7 linked regions of the Homo sapiens genome follow. The protein of the gene in region 7 interacts with the protein of the main gene of each other region in a biochemical or structural test. Each region holds a gene or a part of one and is shown on either strand. Other genes may lie near its edges.

What was found.
Region 1: the proteins of DLG4 (region 7) and FRMPD4 interact in a biophysical measurement, tested with the Homo sapiens proteins (2 studies listed by IntAct, with this or other methods).
Region 2: the proteins of DLG4 (region 7) and NCBP2L interact in a test that uses a peptide from one of them, tested with the Homo sapiens proteins (one large-scale study listed by IntAct).
Region 3: the proteins of DLG4 (region 7) and BPIFA2 interact in a test that uses a peptide from one of them, tested with the Homo sapiens proteins (one large-scale study listed by IntAct).
Region 4: the proteins of DLG4 (region 7) and DGKZ interact in a biophysical measurement, tested with the Homo sapiens proteins (one large-scale study listed by IntAct).
Region 5: the proteins of DLG4 (region 7) and NDE1 interact in a test that uses a peptide from one of them, tested with the Homo sapiens proteins (one large-scale study listed by IntAct).
Region 6: the proteins of DLG4 (region 7) and LNX2 interact in a test that uses a peptide from one of them, tested with the Homo sapiens proteins (one large-scale study listed by IntAct).

Annotation. Positions count from the first base shown.
Region 1 is NC_000023.11:12,144,268-12,148,662, reverse strand, and holds part of FRMPD4 (FERM and PDZ domain-containing protein 4), read right to left. Parts: intron 1-4,395. UniProt on the Homo sapiens protein: Positive regulator of dendritic spine morphogenesis and density. Required for the maintenance of excitatory synaptic transmission. Binds phosphatidylinositol 4,5-bisphosphate.
Region 2 is NC_000023.11:107,783,888-107,788,282, reverse strand, and holds part of NCBP2L (nuclear cap-binding protein subunit 2-like), read right to left. Parts: intron 1-4,395.
Region 3 is NC_000020.11:33,174,366-33,178,760, reverse strand, and holds part of BPIFA2 (BPI fold-containing family A member 2 precursor), read right to left. Parts: intron 3,355-4,395; coding exon 3,202-3,354; intron 615-3,201; coding exon 533-614; intron 1-532. UniProt on the Homo sapiens protein: Has strong antibacterial activity against P.aeruginosa.
Region 4 is NC_000011.10:46,370,568-46,374,962, reverse strand, and holds part of DGKZ (diacylglycerol kinase zeta), read right to left. Parts: intron 3,651-4,395; coding exon 3,579-3,650; intron 3,477-3,578; coding exon 3,360-3,476; intron 3,260-3,359; coding exon 3,188-3,259; intron 2,889-3,187; coding exon 2,793-2,888; intron 2,536-2,792; coding exon 2,453-2,535; intron 2,347-2,452; coding exon 2,286-2,346; intron 2,193-2,285; coding exon 2,079-2,192; intron 2,003-2,078; coding exon 1,862-2,002; intron 807-1,861; coding exon 728-806; intron 565-727; coding exon 509-564; intron 360-508; coding exon 297-359; intron 198-296; coding exon 124-197; intron 30-123; coding exon 1-29. UniProt on the Homo sapiens protein: Diacylglycerol kinase that converts diacylglycerol/DAG into phosphatidic acid/phosphatidate/PA and regulates the respective levels of these two bioactive lipids.
Region 5 is NC_000016.10:15,691,415-15,695,809, reverse strand, and holds part of NDE1 (nuclear distribution protein nudE homolog 1), read right to left. Parts: intron 4,001-4,395; coding exon of another isoform or gene 3,942-4,000; exon of another isoform or gene 3,644-3,941; intron 1,646-3,643; coding exon 1,554-1,645; intron 1-1,553. UniProt on the Homo sapiens protein: Required for centrosome duplication and formation and function of the mitotic spindle. Essential for the development of the cerebral cortex.
Region 6 is NC_000013.11:27,574,916-27,579,310, forward strand, and holds part of LNX2 (ligand of Numb protein X 2), read right to left. Parts: intron 1-4,395.
Region 7 is NC_000017.11:7,186,428-7,190,793, forward strand, and holds the end of DLG4 (disks large homolog 4), read right to left. Parts: coding exon 4,281-4,366; 3' UTR 760-4,280; downstream 1-759. UniProt on the Homo sapiens protein: Postsynaptic scaffolding protein that plays a critical role in synaptogenesis and synaptic plasticity by providing a platform for the postsynaptic clustering of crucial synaptic proteins.

The sequences.
Region 1 (4,395 bases), on a different chromosome or scaffold from region 7:
TCTTCTTCCAATTGAAGGTTAGTCTACACTGAAAATCTGCGGTTTAGTGTAGTCATCTTCATCAGTGATCTTAGCTAGGTCTTCTGGATAATTTGCTGCAGCTTTTCCATTAGCACTTGCCGCTTTACCTTGTACTTTCATGTTATGGAGACAGCATCTTTCCTTAAGCCTCACAAACTAATCCCTGCTAGCTTCAAACGTTTTATCTGCAGCTTCCTCACTTTTCTCAGCCTTCGCAGAATTTAAGAGAGTTAAGAGTCTTGCTCTGGATTAGGCTTTGGCTTAACGGAATGTTGTGGCTGGTTTGATCTTCTATCCAGACCACTCAAACTTTCTCCATATCAGTAATAAGGCTGTTTCACTTTCTTATCGTTTGTGTGTTTCCTGGAGTAGCACTTTTAATTTCCTTCAAGAGCTTTTCCTTTGTAGTCACAGTTTGGCGAACTGTTTGGCACAAGAGGTCTAGTTTTTGGCCTATCTCAGCTTTCAACATGCCTTCCGTACCAAACTTAATTATTTCTGGCTTTCAATTTAAAGTGAGAGATGTACAACTCTTCCTTTAACTTGAACACTTGCAGGCTACTGTAGGGTTATTAATTGGCCTGATTTCAATATTGTTATGTCTCAAGGAACAGGGGAGCCTGAGGAAAGGGAGAGACATGAGGGAATGGCTAGTTGGTACAGCAGTCAGAACACACACAACATTTATCAATTAAGTTTGCCATCTTATATGTGTGGTTCATGACAGCCCAAAACAATTGCAATAGTAACATCAAACAATTCCAATAGTAACATCAAAGATTACTGATCACACATCACCATAACAGATATAATAATAATAATGAAAAATATGACACAGAAACACGAAATGAGCACATGCTGTTGAAAAAATGGTGCTGACAGATTGCTTGATGTGGAGTTGGCACAAACCTTCAATTTGTAGAAAGTGCAGTATCTATAAAGCACCAATAAACCAGAGTGCAATGAAACAAGGTATCCTTAAATCTACTATAAACCAAGGAGGTTTAATACCAGGGGATTTGCCCTTGAAGAGTTCATAAATGAGACACAGATCAAAACTGGACTCAATTATAATACCATCTATACCAGTCAGCCATTGCCACAACAATGCTGCATAACACAGTGTCATACAAGAATAAGCATCTGTTTTCATGCTCACAGGTTTGCCTGATGGTGCTGGTCCATGTGAATCTAGCTTCTAGGACCAACAGGTTAAACTAGGCAGTTCTTCATATAGCAATGTTAAGAGCTTTTTGCTTTTTTACATTCTTTTTTAGAAACGTACAATACCTTAAAGGCATTCTCCTACCAAAAACTTGTACCAAAACAGATACCCTGTGACTTCTGTCCATATTCCACTGGCCAAAGCAAGTTACTTGGCCAAGCCCAACAGCAATGGGGCAAAGAGGTACCCTCTACCTCTAGGAAGTAGAACTATAATGTCACATGGAAAAGGCTTGGATTCAGGGAAGATTTAAGAATTGGGAACAAAATTACAATCTACCACACAATGAAGAAATGTTGTGAAAAGAGCAGGGCATGACATGTCCAGCACAGATAGGGTACACAGTGGCACTAAACTTCCCAGCTTGCCTCACAGTTACATAGGGTCAGAGTTCTGCCTAATGGAATGAGGGTAGAATGGTATACTTTGATTCTGGGCATAGCCCTTAAAAACCTGTCACCCAATCTTCTACCATTCTCTCCCCTCATCTGTCAGCTGAACACTGATGTGCAGGAAACCTTCGATAGCATACTGAAGATGAGATAGTCCTATCTTACAGGTTCTCAGAATGGCTGAGCATATCAGAGCTCCCCCACACCATCAGGAATGCCTGTTTTGTGTATCAAGCAAACAAGAGATGGGCCACAAAAATTGAGGGATTGATCTGTTAAAGCAGTGAAATTATCTTCGCTAATAAAAGATGTCAGTCGAGCTATTTAACCCAGGATTGGGAGGTTGGAGAAGGTGACATGGAACAACCTTAGATTAAAAGCTGAAATATAAAAGACAGATAGGAATTTTTCAGGTGTAAAGGAGGCAAGATAAAGATTGTTCCAGACAAAATGAAGAGTTTATGCAAAGGCTCAGGGTGTGGCACTTTTTAGGACTTCTAAAAAATTCAACATGGTTAGGGGTAGATGTGTGTGTGTGTGTGTCTCTGTATGTGTGTGTATACACGTGTGTGTTTGGTGTTGAGTAGGAAGTTAAGGCTGGAAAGGAGGAATAACAAGTTCAGAGAAATATGGTTCTCTTTTTCTTTTCTTTTTTTTTTTGAGACAGAGTCTCGTTCTGTTGCCCAGGTTGGAAGCACAGTGGCGCAATCTCAGCTCACTGCAAGCTTCGCCTCCCAGATTCAAGCTATTCTCCTGCCTCAGCCTCCCGAGTAGCTGAGACTACAAGCGCCCGCCACCACGCCCGGCTAATTTTTTTGTATTTTTAGTAGAGACGGGGTTTGACCGTGTTAGCCAGGATGGTCTCGATCTCCTGACCTTGTGATCCGCCCACCTCGGCCTCCCAAAGTGTTGGGATTACAGGCGTGAGCCACCGCGCCCAGCCCGAGAAATACAGTTCTCAAAGGAACCAAGTGAATCAGGCCAAACCCAAAAGGGTAAGGATAAAGAATATGGATTTTCCCCTCAAAAGTATGTAGACGGAGGGGACAGGGAGGATCCAATTTGCACTTTACAAAGCTTCTAAGTTAACCTACAAGTGGTATTGTAAGTGCTGACAGTTTAAGTCCCCCAGAGCGGGGCTGGCAAGGGTGACTGTGTTCAGGGTGAATCTCCAACCATATCCATCCTTCCCCCTGCTAGTAAAGAAGGCTGACACCCAGACTGCCCCAAAGGGAAATTTGAGTACTGGGCAGAGAGATCAAAGAAGAACAGTAAAATACCCATGTAAAGGGCAGAGAGTAAATATTTTAGGCTTTGCAAGCCATGTGGTTTCTGTCACAGCTATCCAACTCTCCCAAGAGCAGCCACAGTATACAAACAAAAGGGCATGGCTGTGTTTAAATAAAACTTTATTTATAAAAATGGTCATAAAGCTTTCTAAAATAAGTAAACACATCAGATGGGTTAAGTTTGCCAGCCCTGGCCCTAGGCCATGAAGCAGGACATCGCCCTGAGCCACAATTCAGTTGGGCATGTTTGGGATTTACACCAAAACTAATTCCAGACTCCACCACTGTATAGCTGAGACTGCTAACTGCTCCTGTACTAGGGTAAAGACCGGTGACTTGGATCGTGAACTTCAAAAGAGACAAATATCCAGGACTCCAGTTACAGGAACCATTGTAAAATCACCATGGTCAGTATGTTATCCAATGTTGAATCAATACAACAGCCTTGAATCAGCCAGATGGCCGCGTGTTCTCCCCCACACCAGTCTCTGACCAGATAAATAACTGTGCCAGTTCAATAGAAAAATACACTCATTCCTACATTCATTAGGAAAATTTTACCATTAATTTTATGAACTTTTGCCTACTGCTTTCTTTGAACCTCATCTTTGTCAGGTAATCATGTTCTTATTTTCAATTAAGCAAATCTCATAAAACTTGTGAAGCCTATAAAAAATAACCAAAATAAAAATTAAAACCCTATAGTAAATTGTAATTGCAGGGAAATTACTTTTCATTTTCAAACTTTGGAAACATTTCTTTCATAGAAATGATTGTGTTTTCCTAGCTTTCAAAAAAGACTTTCTAAAATAAAAACTTACTGACATCTATAAAAACCCATTTCAATATCATCATAACTTTGCTTATTGAGCTTAAAGCAGTAAAACAGAGACTCCTTGGAAATACAAGTTGATGACTTTTTAACCATCAATCACCAAATATATATATTATATTTTATATATATAATATATATATACTTCAAATGTAAAAACAGAAATAAAAGTTTATTCTCTGAGACCAAGTCCAAGAGCAGGCTATTTACTTTTAACATGTACATTGTATTCCGTTATATTCAATAAAGAAGTACTGACATGGTAATTGTTCAGCTAAACAAATATGACAATTTGTTTGCAACAAATGTTAGAATGAATTGTATATGACTTCACTCACTAATTATTTAGTATAGACTATTTATCTTATGCCAAATTCTGTAAACCATACTTGAAAATATATTTCTGAAAGAACAGTTCTGGCAGAAAACCCTTCTCATCTCTTTGCCAGGAAAAAAAAAAAAATGGGAATGTTAACTTTGTTATCTAAAACTAAGGCTTAGATTTCTTCAAGATAATTTTCAGAGCTTAAGTACATAATGACCTAAATTACTCAGAAGCAAGGCAGCATACTTTTGATATATGTTTTTGCTGTAAAGAACTAAAGGTAGTCTATGATTTCTCATTATAATGCTCTC
Region 2 (4,395 bases), on a different chromosome or scaffold from region 7:
CAATGAACACCTACCTGCTAAAGGTGTTAGAAGGGTCACCCCCAAGGTTAACATCCCCAAAGGTTAAAGAGAAGATAGAAAAGCAATCCAGTTGCCAGGGACCACAGATCACCAAGTTGATCTGTAAACACTGTGAGAGAATATTTCCTACCTAAAAAGTAGAGCTTGGTTGGAGTGGAAAGCTTTCCTTGACTCTTGCTACTGGAGAAAATTAGTCAGAGAGTCTAAAAATAGAAGAAAAACATGAAGAATGGCTCAAAATGATCAGTCAAAATCCTAAGAGGACGGAGGAGAGGAGGTGGCAAAATAAAGTAAATTATCTTCCAGGAAACAAACTTCACTGGGCTTTTGGAGTTGGCAGGACTCTGCAAAGAATCTTTTCAATGGTTGCCTTAAACTAATGCTGGGATTGTTTCAACTATGTGAAAGGAACAAGGATCTGGACTCTTTAAAAAGCCAGGCTACTTTCTGCTCCAGATGAAGGCAGTAGCTCTAAGAAAGGAAATTAGAAAGCGCTGGGACAGTAGTGTTACTACATGCCTTACCTTTATAAGACTGTTCCTAATGGGTGAGAGAGCTGAGAGCCATTGTTGAGGACTGGAACCCTGTGGCCAAATATCTACTTTGTGCCAAGAGAAATTCATGTCTGATTGAGACTGCCTAGTGCTCAGAGTGACAGAAGATGTTCATATGTATTTAACACCTGTATTTAAATGAGTAGTTAAACATAAACATGTCATGGAGGTGAGAGATGAGAAATTACTTAATGGGTACAATCTACACTGTTTGGGTGACGGTTACATTAAAAGCCCAGACTTCACCACTCTGCAATATATCCATGTACCAAAACTGCACTCGAACCCCTTAAATTTGTACAAATAAATAAATAAACAAACATAAGCTGAAACAGACTGGCAGAACTAAAGCGGAGACAATGGCCTGAGACAGGCTACAGGAGAAAAGAGGATAATAAGTGACTGTTTAGTGTAGAAGCTGATCTGGATTAAATTAGGAAGCAGGTGTTAATGGATGCTTGAATTTTTTTGTTTATCATTTGCACTATATGGCCTTACTGTTCAAAGTGTTGTCCGTGGGCCAGCAGGAGCAGCACACCTGGGAGCTTTTTAGAAATGCAGGATCTCAGGCCCCTCCCTAGATCTGCTGAATAATAATCTTCATTTTAACGAGTTTCAGGTGATTTGAGTGCACAGTACAGTTTGAGAAGCACTGACGTATGTGGTTTCTTAGTTGAACTTTTGCCTAACAAAATTCTCTGTCCCTTCCTCCTTCCTTCTCTCCCTTGTACCACCTCTCCTAGTTTCCCAATCTTAGTTTCCTTGTGATCTGGCACATAACTCTAATCATGGCTGATAGCCCCAAAAGTAGTGTTCCCAATATATCCAGATAAAGAAAAGAAAAGAAAAGAGTGGTCAGATATATATTGTAAAGCACAGGTTTGGGCAGTAGGAAACCATTGACTTGGCCTCTAATTGTGCTGTCTGTATAACTTTTGTCAAGTTCCTTGACCCTTCTGAGCCTCAGTCTGTAAAATAAGGGTCATTATAGTATTTACCTCATAGTGTTGTTGTGAGAATGAAATGAAATGAGGGGAAGGTATGTAAACTGCCTAACACAGCGCCTGACACACAGTAAGTGCTCAGTATGTGGTAGTCATTATTATTGAAAGCCATCAGTTCTGAAGTAAACTTAGAACTATGTTATGATTCCAGACTTTCAAAGTCCCCATGAGTCTTTCTGGAGAGCCTCCGGAAAGCCCTGTGTACCTCATCCAGTTCAGCTTTCTTGACTCCAGTACCAGCAGTCAAGCAAAAGTATTTCTTATTCCCTTGGATTGTCTTCTTGTTTTTGCTGAATTACCAAGATTTCCTACTTTGTCATTGCAAATGGCCCACATTTTTAGTACATTAAAGCTAAAAACATCTTTTGTGGGCTGGTCTGGAAATGTAGTTCAATTTATAACAATTTTTTTCTCCTATGGAAAAATGCATGTCACCTTCCAAACAATTGACTTGAGAGTGAACTTTGAGAGCTCAGCCTGTCTGCAGCTTGGAGGCTCCCTGTATGTCAATATATGGAGTGGTCACAAAGGCTAGGTAAACCAAGTCCAGAATTCCAGAGGTGGCTGAAAGACAATTGACAATGCTACAAGGAGTGGAAAGTAGGGCAAATGGATCAATCTGCGTGCACAGTATCAAGATTTAGAAAGCTAATACAGGAAGGGAGATATACCTCTGGAAGGATATTAAAAAATAGCCACAATGACAACACAAACCATTTTTTTTTTTACTATATTAGGTCAGGGGCCCCTAATCGGTAGCTTGGGATCTACAAACAATATCAAGGCCTTGCAAGCTAACTCTCCAACATGATCGCCCTTCTCCTGCCCTGCTCTCTGCAGTTTACCTGGATTCTCAGCTCAGAGAGGAAGACAGTAAGCAGCATCTCCCCAATCCTCTTCACTCCCACACCCTGGTAGCCAGCCCCCAGATTCAGTAAACTTCCCTCTACCTTTAATTTCCGTCTTCCCAGGGAGATCAAGGCATCAGGAATATACAACACAGTTTTTCCTTACAAAAAGGATGAGGACTCCTGTATTGGGTAAAATAAGATGACTGGTGAAAACAGGGCCCCCAGGATGGAGAGGGCTGGAAAGACAGTAAGAAAGGACCATGAAAAAGCAAAGGACTTTTGTGCCTTCTCCCTGAAGTTGTTAGCAAGAAAACCAATTGTATCTGGGGGAACTCTGGGTTAACATGGCAGCAAGATAACACAGTCTGATACCCACCATCTAGGAATGCCCATTAAAATATCCATGAAGCTTTGCAACAAAAAACTAAAACTTGCACTAGCTACGGAAAATAGGGGAAAAGGGACTGTTAATTGCTAATGGAGAAGGAATTTCTGCTAGCTGTTGTAGGGAGATGGGGTTGGACTGAGGAACATATTTATAATCTACATACACTCTACCCTCCTATCCAGAACAGCAAAAGTGCCCAACAAAGTTGGGGAAAGATTTTGATTCACTTCTACCAACTGTCCTTAGATTGGAAATACAGAGGCTCATCAGAAAACCAATGTCATCCCTTTACTATAAAGAAAATATTTTCAGAGGCAACAACAGCTCTGTTCCACTTCTTCTACCATCAATTCCTCTATTTTATTTTTTTCTCTTTCTTTCTTTCTCCTTCCTTCCTTCCTTTCTTTCTTTCCTTCTTTCTTTCTTTCCTTCCTTCCTTCCTTCCTTCCTTCTTTCTTTCCTTCCTTCTTTCTTTTGTTTGTTTTTGAGACAAGGTCTCATTCTGTGGCCCAGGCTGGAGTGCAGTGGCACAATCACAGCTCACTACAGCCTCAACCTCCCAGGCTCAAGCAATCTTCCCACCTCAGCCTCCTGAGTAGCTGAAACCACAGGTGCATGCCACCACACCTGGCTATTTTTTTTTTTTTTTTTTTTTTTGTGGAGATGGGGTTTTGCCATGTTGCCCAGGCTGGTCTTGAACTCCTGAGCTTAAGTGATCCACCCGCCTCAGCTTCCCAAAGTGTTGGAATTACAGGCGTGAGCCACCGCATCTGCCCAGCTCCTCTATTTCCTATATGCTTTGTGGAGACCACAACTTGAGAACACCATGTGGCTGGTGATGGTGGTAGCGGTGGTTGGGGCCAGAGATTGTTATGGTTGGGGCCAGAGATTGTTATCGGGAAAAGTTCTGAACATAAGCATGCTTGCAGACATTATATCTGAAAAAATGTAATGTGTAACATGTAATTTCATATTACATATATAAATATGTAATATGTAATTTCATGTAATATGAAATAATGTAACATGTAACAAATTGCAGAGTTGAATGACCCAAAAGATCAGAGATGGAAGATTCCATCTATCTCAGTCCAGCCAAACCTAAAAATAATGATAGCAGCAACAATAACACTATCAACTGCCACCAGTTGCTGGGCAATTATTATATGCCAGACACTATATTAAGTACTTAACATGTCATGCATTATCTTACATACTCCTCATAGTAAACATAACTTGCCATTCAAGTTTGTTTGAAAAGGTCAGGTAACAATAATGACATCTACCACATATTGAGTTGTGACTATGTGGTAGGTACCAAGTGTTATACATCCACCATCTCATTAGATGAATGCCTACTAGGCACTAAAAATGGGCTTGGATAAGTACTTTGTCCTTCTCAATTCATCCTTCAAGCCATCATCTCCTCTAGGAAGCCTTCCTTTACCCTTCCAATCTGTGTTTGGTATGCCCACTCTTTGTTCCTTCCATCACCATTCTGTGCTTCATTCCATGACAATCCTTATCATATATACTGTGATTGTCTCTTTACTTGCCTGTGCTCCCACCCTGGACAC
Region 3 (4,395 bases), on a different chromosome or scaffold from region 7:
AGGATTTTTCTTTTATAAACCCACATTCCTGGGTCTGCTTCCAGAATGACTGATTTAGAATCTCTGCAACTTTGGGCCTAGTAATCCTGCACATGGTACCTATGGTTTTGGATGATGCACAGATGGAAAAAAAATTAAAACTATTTTATAAGTCCATTGATTGTATGATATGTGATATTAATTTTCTATTTATGATAGGGATATAAAGTTTTATTTTTAAAAATAAATGCTTCTAAAGAAACATATTTAAGTAAAATTGTGTTGAAGATGTTAGCTACAAAAGCATATTGGTAGTGCGTGGATATGGTGAGAGGCTCAAGTTTGGGACCTGGCAATTTCAGCTAATGTCAGGCCTCTGCTCTACCCTGCTACCCACCAGGCTGATTAGTAGAGGAGGAAGCTCCAGCTGACCTCCTAAGGAGAAGCTTTCACCTCCGAAGGAAAAGTGCTCAGAGGATACAGCCAGGCCTGCAAATTCCCCCACCTGCCCCCACCAGGCCTGGATCTGGGCTCCAAGGAGTGGGAGACTCACCTCCTTCTGCAGCAGGGAGGATACAGTGCTTTTCAGCGTGTTGATCACGCTATTCACGAACTTGTTGATGATTTGGCTGTGTCTGGAAAACACAGGGAACTATTAAAGTCTGGTCAAGTGGGCAAGAGATGGGAGAACTGCCAAAAAGTTGGGGGCGGTGCGGGAAATACTGTGGAGTCAGATAAACCCCAGGGACATGGAGACACTTTAACAGACAGAGCCTCCCATCCACATGGATCATCACTTAGACTCCCACATCTGACCAGCGGCTCACCCCAGTGCCTCATGAGATTCTCAGCGCAGAGACCTTATTCGTTCACTCATTCAACCCGTATTTACAGAGCACCAGCTATGCACCAGGAACCTAGCTGGGCCCTGAGGATACCGAATAAGTAAAGTACAAACATCCCCTAACCTGGTACCTAAACATTAAGGGTCCAAACATACCCTGATGTGGTACCTAAACAAATCTTGCCAAAGTTGGCTCCTCCCACCTTCAACTCTTAGTATAATTGCCACCTCCTCAGGGCACCCCTCCCTGACTGCTTACCTAAGAGAGAGCTTTGCTATCACAGTGCCCAGTTAAGGGTAATGCTTTCTGCAGGACTCATTTCCCTGGAGCGTTCTTTACCGATGGACTGAATTTGGGTTGGATTGGATCCAAAGTGCAAAGAAAAGCGCTGAGAGGATTTGGAGCTGTAGAGTGGTGTCATTTCACAGATGTGGACACAGATCCACGGCAGCTTAGCTTTCCCTTGGGTAAGCTCCGCAAGAACAGGGACCTTGTCTGTCATCACCAATCAGTTCTCCAGAGCCCAGAATGGTGCCTGCCTGGCACACAGCAGATGCTCAATACACTTTTTTTTTTTTTTTTGAGACAATGTCTTGCTCTGTCACCCAGACTGGAGTGCAGTGGCACGATCTCGGCTCACTGCAACCTCTGCCTCCTGGGTTCAAGCAATGCTTGTGCCTCAGCGTCCCGAGTAGCTGGGATTACAGGAAACCGCCACCACCCCCGGCTAATTTTTGTATTTTTAGTAGAGACAGGATTTTGCCATGTTGGCCAAGCTGGTCTTGAACTCCTGACCTCAAGTGATCCACCCACCTCAGCCTCCCAAAGTGCTGGGATTACCGGTGTGGAGCCATCGTGCCCAGCCTCAATACATTTTTGGCTGAAAGAATGAAAGAAGTGAACATACAATTAAATATATATTGAGAACTTGTGACGAGTGCTTTAAAGGCAAGAGTTAGACTCTTACGAGAGAGAATAGGAGGAGCCCTGGGAAGGCCCTGAAGGATGCAAAAGTCCATCAAAGTGGAGTGAGAAGAAGGTGCTCTAGGTAGCCAGAGCACCCCAGGCAAAGGTCTTAAGCTGGGAAAGAGCCTTGAGAAACAGCCTATCTGAGACATGGCACAAAGGCCACTGTATCTGGGCACAGTGAGTAAGGGGAGGGTACAGGGATACAAGGGTGGGGCCAGATCAAACAGAGCCTTCATGACCATGGGGAGCACTTGGGATTGAACCACAAGTGCAAAGAAAGACCCTGGGAGGATCTGGAGCCTCAGAGTGGTGCCATCTCACAGATGTGGGCACAGACCTAGTGCAGCAGGATGGCGTCCCTGAGGCTACTTGGGAAGATAGCACCCAGCCAGGCTCCAGCCTCTGAATTTACACCCCGGCCTTCGCAACTCACATCAGGCTATGGAAACTTTCTTTGGTTTTCAGGGGTCTTTGAGCAACCTGTGTTCAGATCCCTCAGTGCAGGGCGAGTGGAGTGTCCTCTGCTCATGGCCACAGGGGCTGAGAGCTGAGGACCCAGCCTTGCTCCTGGCCAAGGCCAAGTAGCCCCAGCCCTCAGCTTCTGGGTCATTCATCCTCTCCCAGCCATCGGCCAGCATCACTCTTTCTCCTTCCACCCTCTTGCCTGAGTCAAACCTGCTCTTTCAGGCACAGAGCTTAAGATGTAGATTTTGTGGATTAAAAGGGATCAGTGAGTCAAATGGAGAGGATTAAGTTTTCAAGATCTCCTTTCAGGAAATTTCCACTGGGTGGAGGATGATTTGGGGACAATCTGAAATTAGAGCCCGTGGCAGGCACTTACTCTCCCCTCTCCCTCCCAACTGGAGGCAAGAAGGTAAATATAATTTTATCGTTATTATTATTATTATTATTGAGGGACATTACATAACAATAAAGTGGACAATTCTCCAAGAAGTCATAACAATCCTAATGTGCATGCACCTAACAACAGAGCTCCAAAGGGTATGAAGCAGAAACTGACCGAGTTGAAAGGCGAAATGAACAAATCCATGATTATGGTGGGGAGCTCAACACTCCAGTCTCAGTAATGGAGAGAACCAGCAGGCAGAGAGGCAGCATGTTCCAGGCTGCGTGCTAAATATTTGTATTTTCTCATCTGGTCATCTCAGAAGCCTATGAGTAGTTATTATGAACACCCCCAGTTTACAGATGTGAAAACAGGCCTGGGTCAAGTTGGTGATAAAGTTACAAGTTAGTGGCAGAGCTGATGTGTAAACCAAGGTCAACATGACTCCAGAGCCTGAACACTTTCACCACTAGGCCTCCTCTTAGGTAGAGGACTAGAGCTGAAATTAGGGGTCCTCAAGTTCCCTGAGAGCCCAGCTCTACTAAGATGAATGGGACTTACTTGTCCAGCAAGGAAAGTGAGATGCTGGTTGGGTCACTGGCGCATTCTCCCAGGACGGCAACAGGCTGGTGTGTCTGGGGATCAGTTTCAATTGTGACTGCGGTCAGGAGGTCCAAGGAGGCTTTCAGGTTGATAATCTGGCCAATGATGGGCCTGCAGGAAGTAAGATGCACAGTGAACAAAGTCTAGAAGTTCCTGCCTGTTGCCCAGTTGGGTTCCTCCACCTGTGTGGACATGAGTCAGAATGTCTATGTGTAATGTCAACATGGCCCAGGTAATATCAACATGGTCCATATCCTCTATGAGATTTACATGTTTATATTAGGGGCTTCTTCTCCTGGCCACTTGGGTTTAGCTCATATGAATTTTTTATACAACATTACACTAATAAGTAAAATAATAATAGTTAACATTTATTGACAACAATTTATGTGTAGGTACTTTAAAAAAGTATTTTACCTGGATTCATTTATTACTATCCCTATTTTCTGAATGAGGAAACCTTGGTACAGAGAGGTTAAGTAACTATCCCAAGATCTCATAGCTAAATAATGGGTGGCATCATTAGTGCATGTAGTTTACAGAAGTGCTTTCACACATGCTCATTTCTTGTCTATCTCCTTTAAAATTAAAATTTTTTATTTTTTGTGAGACAGGGTCTCACTCTGTCGCCCAGGCTGGAATGCAGTGGTGCAATCACGGCTCACTGCAGCCTCGACCTCTCCGGCTCAAGCAATCCTCTTGCCTCAGCCTCCCAAGTAGCTGGGACTACAGGCGTGTGCTGCCACACCTGGTTAATTTTTGTATTTTTTGTAGAGACAGGGTTTTGTCATATTGTCCTGGCTGGTCACGAACTCCTGAGCTCAAGCAATCCTCCCACCTCAGTTTCTCAAATTGCTGGGATTACAGGTATAAGCCACCACTCCCAGCTAAACTTAAAAGAGTTTAAACTTATATTTTGCACACACACACTTTATTATACACTGTGTATTATTGTATGAATTTTTCTGTAGTGGTCACTGCAACTTAGAGAGAATCTTGAGGGACAAAATAATGCTGGAGGAAATTTTGCCAAAGAATGATAAATGTTTGTTATCTCAACTTTTCAAATTTTAAAACCAGATAAATGTCATGATTTCAAAACTATATTCAATGGAGCATTGTTTTTAAAAGACACTTGCTTATGGCCAGAGT
Region 4 (4,395 bases), on a different chromosome or scaffold from region 7:
GGCCCCAGGGCATGGTGCCCGCACAGTACCTGCAAAGGCGGGCGATGACATGGGCCTCAAAACACAGTCTCTGCAGGACAAGGACAGCAGGGCTCCCCCCAGCTCCGGTAGCCCCCTCCTCACCTGGGGATGTTCAGGAAAACAACACACTGGGGTTTCAGGTCCTGGATCTTGGGAGTCAAGTCCATTCCATCACACTGGAGGCGGGCGGGGAGGGTGTTGAGGTGCATGTGCCAGGTGGCCTCCGCCTCCCTCCCTTCCGGCCCACCCACCCACGGCAGCCTGGCCCCGCTCACCACCACTCGGATGTGCTTGGCCAGGTCCTTGGAGCTGCCCATCAGGAAGTCAGAGAAAGCTGTCTGTGGGAGACAGAGGGCGTCACCATCTGCTGACAGAGATCTTTCCTCACCAGCACCCGGCAGGGCTCCTGGGGCCTGGTGGACACAGGTGGGCACGGGCACGGGTGGTAGAAGAGGTGGGCACAGGCGGGGGTGCAGACCCCACTCACCCCGGCGTAGAACATCTTATTCCGAAAGCGGCTGTTGAATTTCTCTGGGTTGGCCTCTGGGTGGAGACAAGCAGTGGGGGCCAGTGAGTCACCCCAGCCTGCCCAGGTGGGGTTGGGGGAGGGCTGGGATGGATGCCTTCACTGGCGGGAGCAGGGTCTGACCCTCCCGGGGACACTCCTGTGCCCACCCTGCCCTGGCCTCAGTGGGAGGCTGCCAACCTCGAGACTCGTGGAACTCCAGGGTGACGTGGGCGTCAAAGCCCAGGCTGAAGTAGTTGTTGAAGACATCCAGGGGCAACTGGAAAAAGGTCAAGGGACCAAAATGAGGGCTGGGCCTCACAAATGTCCCCGCTCCAGGGGCCTCGTGTGGCCGAGCCAGCTCAGCCCATCTGTTCACAGGCTTTTCCTGGTCAGCAGCGTCCGCTAGGGCTCAGCCCAGCTCACCCGCTGTCAGGCACAGCCCTGCTCTGCCTGGTGGCTCCTGGGGGATTTCCCTGCGTGCCTGCAGCATCTCTTCCCTGTCAGCTCCCCTAACACTTCTTCCTGACATGCCATGTGGAGCACAACAGCGAGGCTTGGTTTTGCTCACTGCTTAGAGAAGTGCCTGGCAGGTAGCAGGCGCTCAGTGCATGTCTATGGAATAAAGCAGCATCTTCTGACCAGGCGTGGTGGCTCATGCCTGTAATCCCAGTGCTTTGGGAGGCCGAGGCAGATGGATCACCTGAGGTCAGGAGTTCAAAACCAGGCTGACCAACATGGTGAGACCCCATCTCTACTAAAAATACAAAAATTAGCCGGGTGTGGTGGCGGGTGCCTGTAGTCCCAGCTACTCAGGAGGCTGACGGAGGAGAATAGCTTGAGCCCGGGAGGCAGAGGTTGCAGTGAGCCAAGACTGTGCCACTGTACTCCAGCCTGGGTGACAGTGAGACTCTGTCACAAAAAACAAAAAACAAAAACAAAAAAAAAAACAAGAAAAAAAAAAGAAAACAGAAAAACAAAAATTAGCCAGGTGTGGTGGCACCTGCCTATAATCCCAGCTACTCAGGAGGCTGAGGCAGGAGAATCGCTTGAACCTGGGAGGCGGAGGTTGCAGTGAGCTGGGATTGCGCCACTGCACTCCAGCCTGGGTAACAGAGCGAGACTCAGTCTCAAAAAAAAAAAAAAAAAAACAAAAAAAAAACACAGAAAAAACAGCATCTTGTGAGGCAAGTACTATTATTCCCATCGTACAAGGAAGAAGTGGAAGTTGGAGAAATGAAGAGACACGCCCGAGGTCCCAGAACCAGCAAGTGGAAAAGTGGGATCCAGTCCCCAGTCACCTGCCCTGCCCCCCACCAACCCTGGCCAACTTACCCGGTCGGTGGCGCCTTCATCTCGGTCCTCAGGCCCTGCCTCGGGGTTGGGCTCAGCGTGGAGGTCCCAGCGGTCCAGCTGTACCACGTTCCCCTCCTCCACGTGGGAGAGGATCTTGGACACAGGCTCATCTGTGTAGCCCTGGGGGAGCAGGCAGGGACTGAGCCCTCTGTGGCTGGAGAGGCCCCAGCTGCACCCCCCTCCTATGGGTGCTTACCCCACCCCAGTTGAGGGTTCGGGCCAAGTCGTTGCCAGTACCCAGGGGCAGGATGGCAACAGGGGGTGGCGGCTTCAGGCGTAGCTGGTCCAGGGTGGAGAGGATCCAGCCCACCTGGGGGAGGAAGAACAGAGGCAAATCAGGCCCACAGGGACCCCGGCTTCAGGCCCAGCCCTGGTGCTCGGCTGGCCCATGCGGGGAGCTCACCGTGCCGTCGCCCCCGCACGCCAGGATCCGCAGGTTGTGCACTTTGCGGTACATCTCCAGCCTGGGCTCATGGGAAGATGGCAGTGGGGTCAGGGGATGTGTGCTGTACCCCAGGAGTGAGGCAAGTTCCCCCCCATGTCCCCCACAAAACCTTGGCAAGTACTTACGCCTCCTTGGGCCCTCCCTGGCTCAGGTCGAAGACTTGTCGGGGATTGAGATACCAGAGGAAAGACTGGATGATCTTTGCACCCTGGATGGGATGGGGAGCCAAGAGACAGTCAGGCAGTGGTGGGACGAAGTGGGAGCAGCAGAGGGAGAGGGGTGTGACTGTGGGAACCAGGGCCAATAAGGGGTGAGGGGTGGAGAAAGGACAGGATTTTCTCAGGATCCCTGGGAAAGAGGGATTGGGGTAGAAGCCAGAAACGGGCTCTGGGAACAGCTGCTGGCAGACGGGCTGGACCCCAACCCCCGCCCGAGCCCTTAGCTGAGAGGCAAGGCCGCGTTCACCTGGTTGCCCCCACTCTTGGGGTTCACAAACACCAGCAGGGGCTTCATGAGCGGGGAGGGGGTGGGCCTGATGATGAAGGGTCTCCAGCGGCCCTCCTGGGAGACAAGGTGAGAGGCTGTAAGCTCCTTCCCGTCCAGGACACCCTACCATCATCCTTAGCAGGCCCCCTGGGTGACTTTGTTCCCTCTTTGTACCCTCACGTACCATCTCTGGGCCAGATCTTACCAGGCCACAGAGCAGAAACTGGCATCTAATCCTGCCTTCCTCAGAGGCCCCAGAGCCCACACAGACCCCCACCAGCTGGCAGCATTAGCTGGGGGTGGAAGTTCTGTACCCTGAGCAACAGACCCCTCTCTCCTGCTCCCCTGCAGCCTCTGCCCAGCCTGGGGCTGACCTCAGGCCCTTTCTTGCTGGACTTCCTCTTGAAGGATGCCCTCTTCTTCTTCTTGCTTGCTTTCAGAGTATTCTGCAAGGGAAGCAGGGGTGTTGGTGACGAGGTGGGCAGGCTGGGGTAGCTGGCAGACCCCAAGTGCGTACGGGGCATCAAGGGTGCAGGCAGTACTCACCTGGGGCCTCCGGGCGCGGAGGATCCAGGTGGGCGGGATGACCACGGCTGCGTGGACCCCCAGCGAGCACGGCTCCTCGATCTGCTGCAGCATGAAGCAGGACACCTTGCTGTGGTACTGAGGAGAGCGAGGGGCCGGGCTCAGCGGGACCGTGTTCAGACTCGGGGACCCAAACCCAGCAGTGCAGGGCCTGGCCCTGGGGGCGGGGGCACCACTCACTGCCTGCTTGCACCACGAGCAGCTGATGGCCACAATCTCCTTGCTGTGGAAGGTGAACTTCTGCTGGAATCCCTGAGGGTAGACAGGATGGATGGGAACCAGGGCAGGCGTGGAGCAGCAGACCCAGCCCCTCTCCTGGTGCCAGCCTCTCTCCACCCAGAGACAGGGCCTCGCTATGTTGCCCAGGCTGGTCTCAAACTCCTGGGCTTAAGCAATCTGCCTCAGCCCCCCCAAGTAACTGGGAACAACAGGCATGTGCCACCATGCCCAGCTTTGAACACATTTTTTGTTTTTGTTTGGAGATGGAGTCTCGCTCTTGTTGCCCAGGCTGGAGTGCAGTGGCGTGATCTTGGCTCACTGCAACCTCCACCTTCCAGGTTCAAGCGATTCTCTTGTCTCAGCCTCCTGAGTGGCCGGGATTACAGGCGCCCACCACTACGCCCAGCTAATTTTTTGTATTTTCAGTAGAGACAGGGTTTCACCATGTTAGCCAGGCTGGTCTCGAATTCCTGACCTCAGGTGATCCACCCACCTCAGCCTCCCAAAGTGCTGGGATTACAGGCGTGAGCCACCACACCCAGTCTGAACACATTTTTTAAAATAAAAAAAAATATGTATAAGATAAGCCTGAAGAGCAGGGTGGCTTAGCCCGGGCCCCCTGACTCCCTGAAGTTACCTGCACGGCACCACATGCATACCCGTTCTGCCACACTGCAGGCTAACTCCTGCCTCACTCGGATTTTCCCTCCTTCCTACCCCCGAGGCCTGACCAGACCCCCATGTGCTGTTAAAGAAATTTACTGCCGCTTCCGAGTAC
Region 5 (4,395 bases), on a different chromosome or scaffold from region 7:
TCCAACTAGGCTAAATACTGAAATGCAGACCTGCTTCTAGAATAGCAAACCAGACAGCCAAAAACCAGAAGTAAAAACAAAAGAAATGAGTTGCAAGCTTCTATTAAGTTGTAGCTACAAATACACTGTGTACAGTGACAACTTGGTAGGAGTTAAATTATGTGGCCTTCTAGGCATCATTTTTAAAAATAAACTACAAAGAATACCTATGTTTTTACTTAAGCACAAAAGGATCCCTCCCTGTAATTAACATAAAAGCTGAAAGGCCAAATTCTTTGCCCTAGGCTTTCAAGATTTTTTTTTTTTTTTTTTTTGAGACCAAGTCTCACTTTGTCACCCAGCGGTGCGATCTCAGCTCACTGCAACCTCCGCCTCCCGGATTCAAACAATTTTCCTGCATAAGCCTCTCAAGTAGCTGGGATCGCAGGTGCCCACCACCATTCCTGGCTAATTTTTGTATTTTTAGTAGAGATGGGGTTTCACCATGTTGGCCAGGCTGGTCTTGAATTCCTGACTTCAGGTGATCCACCCATCTCGGTCTCCCAAAGTGTCAAAATTCACTTAAACCCCAAGAAACAAACCAAAAAAAAAAAAAAAAAAAAAAAAGGTGGCAGTTTTTTTCTCTTCTGAGACAACGTCGTGCTGTCACCCAGGATGGAGTGCAGTGTTGGAATCTCAGCTCACTCAGCCTCAACCTCCCAGGCTGAAGCAATCCTCCCACCTCTCAGCCTCCTGAGTAGCTGGGACCACCAGTGTACACCATCAGGCCTGGCTAATTTTTGCATTCTTGTAGAGGCCAAGTCGGGGCAGGGGGTTTCACCATGTTGCCCGGGCTGGTGTCAGACTCCTGAGCTCAAGTAATCTCCCACCTTGGCCTCCCAAAGCACTGGGATTACAGGTATGAGCACCCGGCCAAAAGAGAAGGCAGTTTCCAAGTGCTCCTTAATTTTTCGAGTTAAGGAAAAAACACACATATCACCCTAATTTCCCAAATTTCCTAGAGGAAAAACGGTAAAAGGAAAGAGACATACATAGGGTTCAGAGCAGGGCTTCGAGTCAGAGCTCTGAGTGTCTGGCAGTAACTCCCACAGGAAGCTCTAATGATTCCCAGGGATGCTAAAGGAGCAGCCACACCTAAAACTCACCACACTGCTATGAAAGGGGCTGGACGCATTGGCTCATGCCTGTAATCCCAGAACTTTGGGAGGCCAACCTGGGAGGATCACTTGAGGCCAGGAGTTTAAGACCAGCCTGGGCAACACAGCGATACCCACATTACTACAAAAAAATGAAAGTATCAGCCAGGCATAGTGGCGCACACCTGTGGTCCAAGCTCCTCGGGAAGCTAAGGTGAGAGGATCGCTTGAACCCAGGATTTTGAGGCTGCAGTGAGTTGTGATCATACCACTACACTCCAGCCTGAGCAACAGAGCAAGACCCTGTCTCTAAAAAAAAAGAAAAAAAGAAGAGAGGGAAGGAACTAGATCAACCCCCTTCACACATCCTGAAAGACAGGCAGGAAGGCACCAAACGCCAGGAAAGTGTGGTCTTACCCCGACTTTCCGCAGTAGGTCTCCCACAATGTTGAGGGCTGATATCCGGGCCGCAGGTGTGAGGGGGGTCCCCCCGGTGGAGTCGTCCAGGCCTGGGTGTGCAAAGGGAAGAGCATGTAACTCACCAACCTATAGTCATGTCTGTGCGTTAACATCGCTAGATCCAAAACCACGGGACAGGAGGGACACTGACGCCTTTCCTCGGATCCCAAAAGCTACCCTATTTCTTTCCGTAGTTAACCGCATCACACACCCAAGGCCCGTATGACAACCAATTTTTCAAGTCCTTGTGATGACTGCAACAAATACTTATTTTTACATGTTAGTCTTGCTCTGTCACCCGGACTGGAGTGCGGTGATGTGATCTCAGCTCACTGCAACCTCCGCCTCCCAGGTTCAAGCGATTCTCCTGCCTTGGCCTCTTGAGTAGCTGGGATTATAGCCATGTGCCACCACACCCGGCTAATTTTTGTATTTTTAGTAGAGACAGAGTTCCATCACGTTGTCCAGGCTGGTCTCGAACTCTTGACCTCAAATGATCTGCCCGCCTTGGCCTCCAAAAGTGCTGGGATTACGGGCGTGAGCCACCATGCCTGGCCTTTAACAAATTTTTTTTTTAATAGAGACAGGGTCTCACTATGTTGCCCAGGCTGATCATGAACTCCTAGTTTCAAGCGATCCTCCCACCTTGGCCGCCCAAAGGGCTGGTATTTACAGGCATGAGCCACCGTGCCCAGCCACATTAGTCTTTTTAAACAAACCCAAAACAAATCCTTTTGAAATTGTAGAAAATCCATATAGTTAATTAACATAATGGCATCTGTGATAGATACAAGAACTATAGACAGGATGATCCAGCTTTACAAGGGTCCCGCTCTGCAGAGCCTCTCTTCTCCAAGTGGGGTCCATGCACCAGCAGCACATGAGAACTGTTAGAAATGCAGAATCTCTCGGCCAGGCACAGTAGCTCACACCTGTAATCCCAGTGCTTTCAGAGGCCGAGGCAGTTCGATCAGTTGAGGTCAGGAGTTCAAGACCAGCCTGGCCAACATGGCAAAATCTTGTTTCTACTAAAAATACAAAATTAGCTGGGCATGGTAACAGGTGCCTGCCTGTAATCCCAGCTACTCGGGAGGCTGAGGCATGAGAATCGCTTGAATCCAGGAGGCAGAGGCTGCAGTGAGCCAAGATCAATGCCGCTGCACTCCAGCCTGGCCGACAGAGCAAGACTTTGTCTCAAAAAAAAAAAAAAAGAGAGAAAGAAATTTCAGGCCCCACCCAAGACCCACTTGATCTGAGGTACATTCTACCAAGATCCCCAGGTAAGCTACATGCATATTGAAGTGTGGAAACATAGCCAGGCATGGAGTTGCATGCCTCTAGTCCCAGCTACTCAGGAGGCTGAGGCAGGAGGATCACTGGAGCCCAGGAGTTGGAGGCTGCAGTGAGCTATGATTGCACCACTGCACTCCAGCCTGGGCCACAGACCAAGACTGTGTCTCTAAAAACAACAATGAAATAAAGTATGCAAAATGGCTCTAGACTGGGGCTAGGCACAGTGACTCATACATGTAATACCACCACTTTCAGGGGCTGAGGCAGGCAGATCACCTGAGGTCAGTAGTTTGAGACCAGCCCGGCCAACATGGTGAAACCCCATCTCTACTAAAAATACAAGATTAGCCAGGCATGGTGGTGGGCACCTGTAATTCAAGCTTACTCAGGAGGCTGAGGCAGGAGAATCACTTGAACCTGGGAGGAGGGGGTTACAGCGAGCCAATATCGCACCATTGCACTCCAGCCTGGGCAACAGAGCAAAACTCCATCTCAACAAAACTAAACAGAAGGGCTCTGCACCGGAATTCTAGAAGTCTCACTGGTCTCTTCATGCCCAGGGGACAAGCTAAGGGATAAGGTAGTAGATGGTAGGGTAAGCCCTGGAGCCTGCCTGCCTGGGTCTGAATCCCAAACCATCTGCCATTCAATTGCTTCATGACTCTGCTTAACTCAGAGCCTCACTTTCATCAAACGGGGACAGCACCTGCATCCTGGGCCTGCGGCGAAGGCTGCAGGCTGGCCAGCACACACTGAGCACTCCTTAACTGTCTGTTATTAATATCTGCTGTAAAAGGCCTGATCGGAAGCTGTCAGCAGAGGGGCTGGGGTGAGAACTGAGATTCTTTTTTTCTGCCCATGCAGCACACGTTACGCTGAGTCTAGCTCTCGGTGGATGTATTACTAAACCCACAGAACGCTTTTTACTTTTTTGTATTTGGTCAGTGACATTTCAAATTTGGGAGGTTTTATATTCAACAAGAGGATTTTTGACCAGGCGCGGTGGCTCACACCTGTAATCCCAGCACTTTGGGATCAGCCGAGGTGGGCGGATCACTTGAGTCCAGGAATTTGATACCAGCCTGGGCGACATGGCAAGACTGTGTCTCCACCTAAAATACAAAAGTTAGCCAGGTGCCTTTAGTCCCAGCTACTCCGGAGGATGAGGTGGGAGAATCACTTGAGCCCACGATGAAGAGGTTGCAGTGAGCCAAGATCACGTCACTACACTCCAGCCTGGGCAACAGAGTGAGATCCTGTCTCAAAAAAAAAAACCCAACAAAAAAAAAGAGGATTTCTGGCTTTGAAGAATGGAAAAAGCTGCAGATGAAGGGCCAATCCTCGTAGCTGCAGAGTGGCAGCCACCCGCTCTGGGTGGGGTTTCCATTTCATCAGACTCCACTACTGCCTCTTACCCAGTCCTCACTGATCTCAATGCCCATCCCCAAGAACATCCCAGTCTACTCTCTGCTCAAAGCCTGAGAGCAAATCAGGCTCTGAGCCTGAT
Region 6 (4,395 bases), on a different chromosome or scaffold from region 7:
CTGAGGGAAGGAGAGACAGAGAAGGGGAGAAAACTCTCAACCAGGAAGTCTATATCCAGCCGACTTCAAAAATAAAAGAGAAATTGAGACATTCCTAGGTAAAAACAAAATGTTTGTTGGTAGCATGCTTAACCTGCAAGAAACACTAAAAGAAGTCCATCAGGCTGATGTGAAAGGACACTAAACAGTAACTCAAGTTCATGTGAAAAATGAAGAGCATCAGTACAGTACTGAATTATTTGGTTTGTAATTCTTTTACTCCTATCTGATTTAAAAGAAAAACATATAAAGCAATAATTCTGTGTTGATGGGCACATAATGTGTGAAGATACAACTTGTATAATAATAATAGCACACAGGAGGGGAGAGAGAATGAAAGTTTTTGTATACTACTTGTGATGGTTAATTTTATGTGTCAACTGAGTGGGCCATGGGGTATCCAGATTAAACATTGTTTCTGAGTGTGTCTGTGAGGCTGTTTCTAGCATGTGAATCAGTGGACTCCATAAAGTATAAAGTAGATTGCCCTCCCCAATGTGGTTGCATCATTCAATCCTTTGAGTGCCTGAAGAAAACAGAAGGTGGAGGAAGAAGAAATTCATTCCTTATTTTCCTGCCTTACTGCTTGAGTTGTGACATCTCATCTCCTGCCCTCAGACTGGGATCACTGGCTCTCCTAGTTCTCAGACCTTCTGACTGAGAAGGTCTGAATTATGCTACTGACTTCCCTGGGTTGCCAGCGTGCAGAGAGCAGAACGTGTAATTTTTCAGACTCCTTAATCATGTCAGCCAACTCCTCATATATTGGTTCTATTTCCTTACAGATCCCTGACTAATTCATTAGTGAAAATGAAGCTGGTATTCATTTAAAATAGACTGCTATAAACTAGGATGTTAATTGTAAGCCCCAGGGTAACCACTAAGAAAATAATTTTAATTAAGAGAAATGACACGGGAATTAAAATAGCATATTAAAAATATTTAACACAAATGGAAGAAATGGAGGAAAAAAGAAATAAGACATATAGAAACAAACAGCAAAATGGCAAATGTAAAGCCTACCTTATCAGTAATTACATTAAATTACATGAATGAAACATCCCAATAAAAAGTCAGTGACTGGCAGAATGGGCTACAAGAAACATAATCCAACTGTCTACAACAGACACACTTCAGATTCAAAGACATAAATAAAGCAAAAGACAGAAAAACATAACAAGATATGACAATTATAAACAGAAATTGTACCAAACAATGGCCCCAAAATACGTAAGTAAAAAATGACAAAGAGAGAAATAGACAAATCAACAATAAAGCTTTTGATACTCGACTTTCAATACTAACAGAACAACTAGACATGGAACCAGAAAATAGACCCTTTAACACTATAGACCAATTAGACCCAATAGACATATGGAGCACTCCATCCATTAACAGCAGAATTTACATTATTCCCAAGTACACACAGGACATTTTCCAAGACAGGCCATGTGCTAGGCCATTTTAAAAAAGGCCTCAAGGCTGGGCATGGTGGCTCACGCCTGTAATCCTAGCTCTTCGGGAGACCTAGGTGGAGGATCACCTGAGCTCAGGAGTTTGAGACAAGCCTGGTGCAATATGGCAAGACCCCGTCTCTACTAAAAGCACAAAAAAAAAAAAAATTAGTTGGGCATGGTGGAGTGCGCCTGTAGTCCCAGCTACTCGGATGCTGAGGCACAAGAGTCACTTGAACCCAGCAGGTGGAGGCTGCAGTGAGCCAAGATTGCACTGCTTCACTCTAGCCTGGGTGACAGAGCGAGATGCTATCTCCAGAAAAAAAAAAAGAAAAGAAAGGCCTCAATAAAATTTAAAGGATTGAACAATACACATTATGATTTCTCATTGCAATTAATTCCAAATGGATCAAAAACTGAATTATAAGAGAGAAAACTAGAAAACTCTTAGAAGAAAACGTACATGTAAATTTTTGTGACCTTGAATTGGGCAATGTTTTCTTAGATATGACACCAAAAGCATAAGCAAACAACAATGAACTTCATAAAAATTAGATATTTGTTCTTTAAAGGATGTAGGAAAGTGAAAAGACAACTGACAGAATGGGAGAAAATATATGCAAATCATATATCTGGTAAGGGTCTAGTATCCAGAATACATAGAAAATTCTTACAACTTAGCAAAAAGACAAATAATCCAATATAAAAATGAACTAATGATGTTGAGCATGTCATGTGCTTACTGGCCACTTGAGTATCTTTGGAGAACTATCTATTCAAATCCTTTGCCCATTTAAAATTGGATTTATCTTTTCATTTCTAAGAGTTCTTTATATATTCTGGATACTAGAATACACATGATTTGCAAATACATATATCTGCTTTTTCACACCATACATGAAAAAACAATACTGATAAGAATGTGCTAAACACAAACTTCCCTCCAAGTTAAAGTGTGAATTTAAAAGTGCAATCATGCCTCAGCCTATCCTGATCCCTTTTTTTTCTATTTAGTTTTTCCTGGACCATCATCTAAAGCAGGGTTGTCCAATCTTTTGGCTTCCCTGGGCCACACGGGAAGAAGAATAATTGTCTTGGTCCACACATAAAATACACTAACATCAATGATAGCTGATAAGCTTAAAAAAAAAATAATCCCAAAAGCCTTCCTGGGCTGCATGTGGCACAGGCTGAACAAACTTGAACTTAAGGTTTCATAACCATCTCATGAACAAGAAAAGTTCTCAGCAAGGAAAGAGGCTTCTTTAAAGGTTTTCTATTGTAAACTTTTTATAATGGCATTAAACTGTAATTTTTAAGAGGAAAAGTAATTCTGAACCTTGCCATAAACTAGGGCACAAACACACAATTTAAAAACAACAACAACAACTAGCACTTACAATTACCAAAGGCTTAAATGTTAAATCGTTAAGGGTGGGTTGGAGATGAGTGGTAGAGCGTAGGAGGAATGCTATATAGCTGATGTTGCTTGGCAGAATTTCAAAGAAACAATCAAAATGTTACATATTTAGTACAACATGTAGAATATTTTTCAAAGGCTTTATTTCTCTGTTCAAAGATAGAGACTGTCCATGTCTCTTAAAATTCTTCATTTCACTAATACATAATCAGTTAAAAATAGCAGTTTTATTTAAACATGTTCATCTTTCATAAATATTTTATCTGTAGGAGAAAAATGTTTGCTCTTCTCAAATCAAAACACATTTGTTAAGGGCAGGATTTCATTCAAATAGGAAGGTGATCTTAAATGTGAAATTATCAAATTTATGCAAACTACTGCTAATGCTCTATTTCTACCAATAATTAAGAGATTCCTGTAAACCCTAAAAGCTCAAGAGCAAAGGCACATGACAGCCATGCAACTTTTATACAATGACTCTTTGTTGCTGATGCTAAAATCTTATGAATTTCAATGAAACTTACAGACTTACCAATTTCTAACAAACAAGTGAGATTTGTATACCGAGAAGCCGCAAACAGTCGTAGTAATCATATTCTGCGCCGCATAACATCATTCTTCTTGCTAGTTTATGTTGGTTTTAGAACATGGCTGCAAATTTTTTTGACTTCCCATCACAAGGTGAAACCTATGTCCCCTTTTCCTTGGATATGGGTGGGTTTATGACTGCTTCCAACAGAGAAGGGATGCCAGGCAACTTCAAGGCTAGATCATATGAGGCCATGCAGCCTACTAGACACTGAACCACTTATGTAAGAACTTTAAATACCCTGAGGCTGTCATGCTGGGAAGGCTACCTGTAGCCTCTCCAGCTGACAAGTCCCACGCACCTAGTCATTCCCATCAAGGTGTCAGAAATGTGAATGAAGAAACCATCTTGGAAGTAGACTCTCCAGTTACAACTGTTGCAGTCCCTGGCTTTCAGCTCCTTCCCAGCTGTGGCACACATAAAGATAGCAGAGACAAGCCATCCCTGTTTCATCCTGTCTGCATCCTGACTCACAGAATCAACAAATGCTTGTTGTTTTATGTCAGTGTGTCTGGGGTGGTTAGTTTCTCAGCAATGAATAACTGAAACACAGATCAACAATTTAATTGGACTAACATGAGATGACTGTCAACTTTGGGCAAATAAACTGAAAGACTATAAAGACATGGTTCTGTTTCTAAAGGAATCTACAACCCGGCATTAGATTCTAACTTGCAGAGACTACCTAACACCTAGAAAAGTATCTGGCACATAGCAGATAATCAATATTTGCTGAATAAACAAATGAACTATATTATTTAGGGTTGAATGTTGTATAATATACATTTCTACCTGAATTTCAATGTTCTTATTTAAGAGAACAGAGAAAGGTCAGGCTGTTCATCACTATCTGTTCAAATGGCATATAAAAATCATATTACATTTTATAATTT
Region 7 (4,366 bases):
CTCATCCTAACGCCAGCAACAGCCTAGCTGGCTCTCCATTGCCCCCTGCTGTGTATTCCCCTTCACACCCAGAGTAACTGGCTCACGGTTCCCTCCACAGCCCTCCAGCAGCTTCTACACCACTCTGAAAAATCCACGGGAAGTCCTGTGTGCCACGCCTCTCTGACTTCTCTGACACACCTATTTCTCTCTGTCCCCCACCCTACTCCACTCCAGTGGCCTCCTTCTGTCCTCCAACCTTTCAAATTTATTCCTTCCAGACTGTTCGTCTCCCTACTTGGCACACTCTCACCACCCCAGTCTTTGTTGTCCTTCAGGCCTCCACCCAAATGATGCTGCAAGGGGCCTCCCTGACCGCCCGGTCTAAACCAGCAAGGGCCATCACTCTCTTTCATAGTAGCACCCATCATTGTCTAAACACTCTGTGTTCACTTACTCCCTATAGTCTGTCATCTCCACTGGATGCACCCAAAGTTCCCTAAGGACAGGGATGTTGCCTTCCCAGCATCTAGAACACTGCCTGGTTCCAAGGAACATCCAAGGAAGTATTTACTGAAAGAAGTAAAAAGTGTGGGGAGAAGAGGAACCAGGATTTGAACCTATGTTGTTTGGGAGCCCAGGGCTCCAATGCATTAATTACATTGCCTTCTCAAGCGGCCAGGCCATGGCCTTGGAAGAATACAGCCCCAGCGGCAACCGTGCTTCCCCTGAGGAATAATGCCTGGAGGGAAACAGGAAGGAAACTTTTTAAAAACAGTATGTATTTCTATATTTATTTGAATTGTTGTCAGGTACGTGTACTGATTATAATTTACAAAATAATGCATGCAGGCCAGGCGCGGTGGCTCATGCCTGTAATCCTAGCACTTTGGGAGGCCGAGGGGGGGGGGGGTGGATCACCCGAGGTCAGGAGTTCGAGACCAGCCTGATCAATATGGTGAAATCCCCATCTCTACTAAATACAAAAAATTAGCTGGGCGTGGTGGCATGCACCTGTAATCCCAGCTACTCGGGAGGCTGAGGCAGGAGAATAGCTTGAATCCGGAAGGCAGAGGTTGCAGTGAGCAGAGATCGCACCACTGCACTCCAGCCTGGGCAACAAGAGCGAAACTCTGTCTCCAATAATAATAATAATAATAATAATAATAATACATGCAAAATTATGTGATTCTACCCCATCCAGGTCAAATATGTGATTCTGCCCCTTCTAGTTTAACACGCAGACGCATTACCTGCACACACCTTCCTCAGCTCCTAGATTTCTCCCTTCAGCTCACGATAGAGAACGTTATCACAGCCTCAAGCCATCTGCTATTACACAGAACCAAGCTAAGAGAAGGATTATTTGAAAAACATCAGGGCCAGGTGCAGTGGCTCACGCCTGTAATCCCAGCACTTTGGGAGGCCAAGGCGGGCAGATCACCTGAGGTCAAGAGTTTGAGACCAGCTTGGCTAACATGGTGAAACCCCGTTTCTACTAAAAATATTAAAAAATAGCTGTGTGTTATGGCACGCATCTGTAATCCCAGCTACTTGGGAAGCTGAGGCAGGAGAATCACTTGAACCCTGGAGTTGGAGGTTGCAGTGAGCCGAGATCGCGCCATTGCACTCCAGCTTGGGCAACAAAAGTGAAACTCGACCTCAAAAAAAAAAAAAAAAAAATCCTCTGAAGCAGTGCTTCTCCACCCAGTGAGACATCAAAATCACCCGGGAGCTTTCCAGAAATGCAGACCCCTGGTCCCTATCCCCAGGATCCTGATGGACTCGGTCCTGCATAGAAAATCCTGCAGGGCAATACGTGGCTACTGGTTGAAGTGACACCCCTTCAGCAATCTCTGCCTCTATTCTTGGACTACTTTAGGCTTGGACGGCCATGCCATCCACAGAATCACTACCCCTGGGTTGGTCTTTTGCATGAAACTCTCAACTTTAGTCAGGAGTGGCTACAAAAAATGCCCTTTTGCACTGTTTGGGATTTAACCACCATAACTCTTAGGGCCCTCTGCCTCAGCCTTACCCACTGGAGCACCTGAGAATCAGAGAAAGGAATAGTACCCCAGCAGGTGCCCCCAAAGGTTCATCTGTGCCAAACACATGAAGAAGGCAGAAGGCTGAGAGTCACCATTCTACATAGCAGGATCTCAGGAGCTTCAGTTAGGACTTAGGGCCAGGAAAATATGACTCCCTAAAAGAACTAAAATTATTTCTCCCTTATAATAAAGAAGTAGGTAATTGACAATTTCCTTTTTTGCCATGGCTATCAGGAAGCTCAGAGATCACATTTACCCTCACAGTTCATATACATTTCTCCAGTTTTCATCTTTGGCATTTAGATTCTTATTTTCCTACCCTCATTATTTACAAAGCTGCCTCAGATCTTTCCCATAGAGATAGGACATAAAGGCTGGGCGTAGTGGCTCATGCCTGTAATCTTAACACTGTGGGAGGCCAAGCTGGGCGGATCACCTGAGGTCAGGAGTTCGAGACCAGCCTGGCCAACAAAGCAAAACCCCATCTCTACTAAAAATACAAAAATTAGCCAGGAGTGGTGGCAGGCGCCTGTAATCCCAGCTATTCGAGAGGCTGAGGCAGGAGAACCGTGTGAACCCAGCAGGCAGAGGTTGCAGTGAGCCAAGATCGCACCACAGCACTCCAGCCTGAGCGAAAGAGCGAAACTCTGTCTCAAAAAAAAAAAAAAAAGGGTGGGGGGGGCGCATAAAGAAACCTAGCGTATATTCACACAGCAGTTCTTATCAGCAGAACTCTGTAAAGATCATTTCCAGGCCAGGCGCGGTGGCTCACGCCTGTAATCCCAGCACTTTGGGAGGCTGAGGCGGGTGGATAACAAGGTCAGGAGTTCAAGACCAGCCTGACCAACATGGTGAAACCCCATCTCTACTAAAAATACAAAATTAGCCAGGCATGGTGGCAGTAATCTGTAATCCCAGCTACTCAGGGGGCTGAGGCAGGAGAATCACTTGAACCAGGGTGGCAGAGATCACAGTGAGCCGAGATCGAGCCACTGCACTCCAGCCTGTGCGACAGAGCAAGACTCTGTCTCAAAAAAAAAAACAAAAAAACAAAAAAAATCATTTCCAGATCCTAGCTCTGTCCACAACTCCATGAACATGAATGAACGAAGTTTCCTCTCTATTTTCCTTTAAGGACTGTTGTGCTTCCCAACAGGACTGAGACAGCCCGGCAGGGATCAGAGCTGGACTAAGTCTGCAGGGCCCCAGACAAGTTCCAGCCTCCCCTTTCTGGCCTGTCATGACTTTGGACAGAGCTCCAGACCTTCCCAGGCTCAGTCTTCACCAACTCGGGTTCCTTGATTTGCCAGTTACCTCCCTGGCCCATTTTCCAGGCCACTAACCTCTCTGGCTTGGAGTGAAGAAGGATCTGACTCTGCTGCGCCCATCTCCCTCCACACCCAGGTCCCAAATAACCAGGCCACACACCAAGTTTCAAGTATCTGTCTCTTCCTTTCACTCTCTCAAAAGAAAAAAATAAATAAATTGCAGAAGGCGGCAGCATTTCCAGTCTTCCCTGGCTCCCGGACACCCGACCCCCGACCCCTGCCCCCCACCCTCCCTCCCGCATTTCCCACTCCCTAGACCCATCCCTCCCTTTTCCCCAAAAAAATTCCCAGGAAAAAAAAAAAAAAAAGCCACATTTAGACCTTCCACTCATGCAAACCGGCAAAGAAAAATGGTGGGGGCATGTGGAAGGCAGGGGCCCGCTGCGGAGTCCCCTGCTTCTCCCCCCAAAAAACCACCTTTGAGAAGAAAAAAAGTGGAAAAAATAAATGAGAAATCAAGGAACATGGGGAATTACGATGAGGGCAGGGGTGACCCCAGACCCTGCCTTAGGAGAGAGCGGAGGCCTGTGGCCCTGCATCCCTGCAGCGGGTGCTCCTCGAGGGGGCCCTGACTTCTGGAATGTGTGTGGGAGAGGATGGGGGAGGGCAGGTGGCCCCCGGTGGGTCTGTGTGTGCATTGGGGGCAGGTGGGGGCGGGGATCCTAAGGAGCAAGGGCTCGGAACAAGGAGCCCAGCTCCCCCCCAGACCCCAGGTTCCTGGCGTTCAGGAGCCCAGTTCTGGGGTGCGGGGATACATGCAGAGGAGTGTCCCCCCTCCAACAGGCTGGATCCAGTTAGAAAGGAAATAAATAAGAAGGGGTGGGAGGGAGGCCGGGGGGAGCCAAGGGCTTGGGCAATTCAGTCCAGACCAAGGGCCCAGGTGATGGAGGCAGGGCGAGTCCAGGCCAAGCCAGGGCAGGAATCAGAGTCTCTCTCGGGCTGGAACCCAGATGTAGGGGCCTGAGAGGTCCTCGATGACACGCTTCACCTTGTGGTAGATCTCCTCAA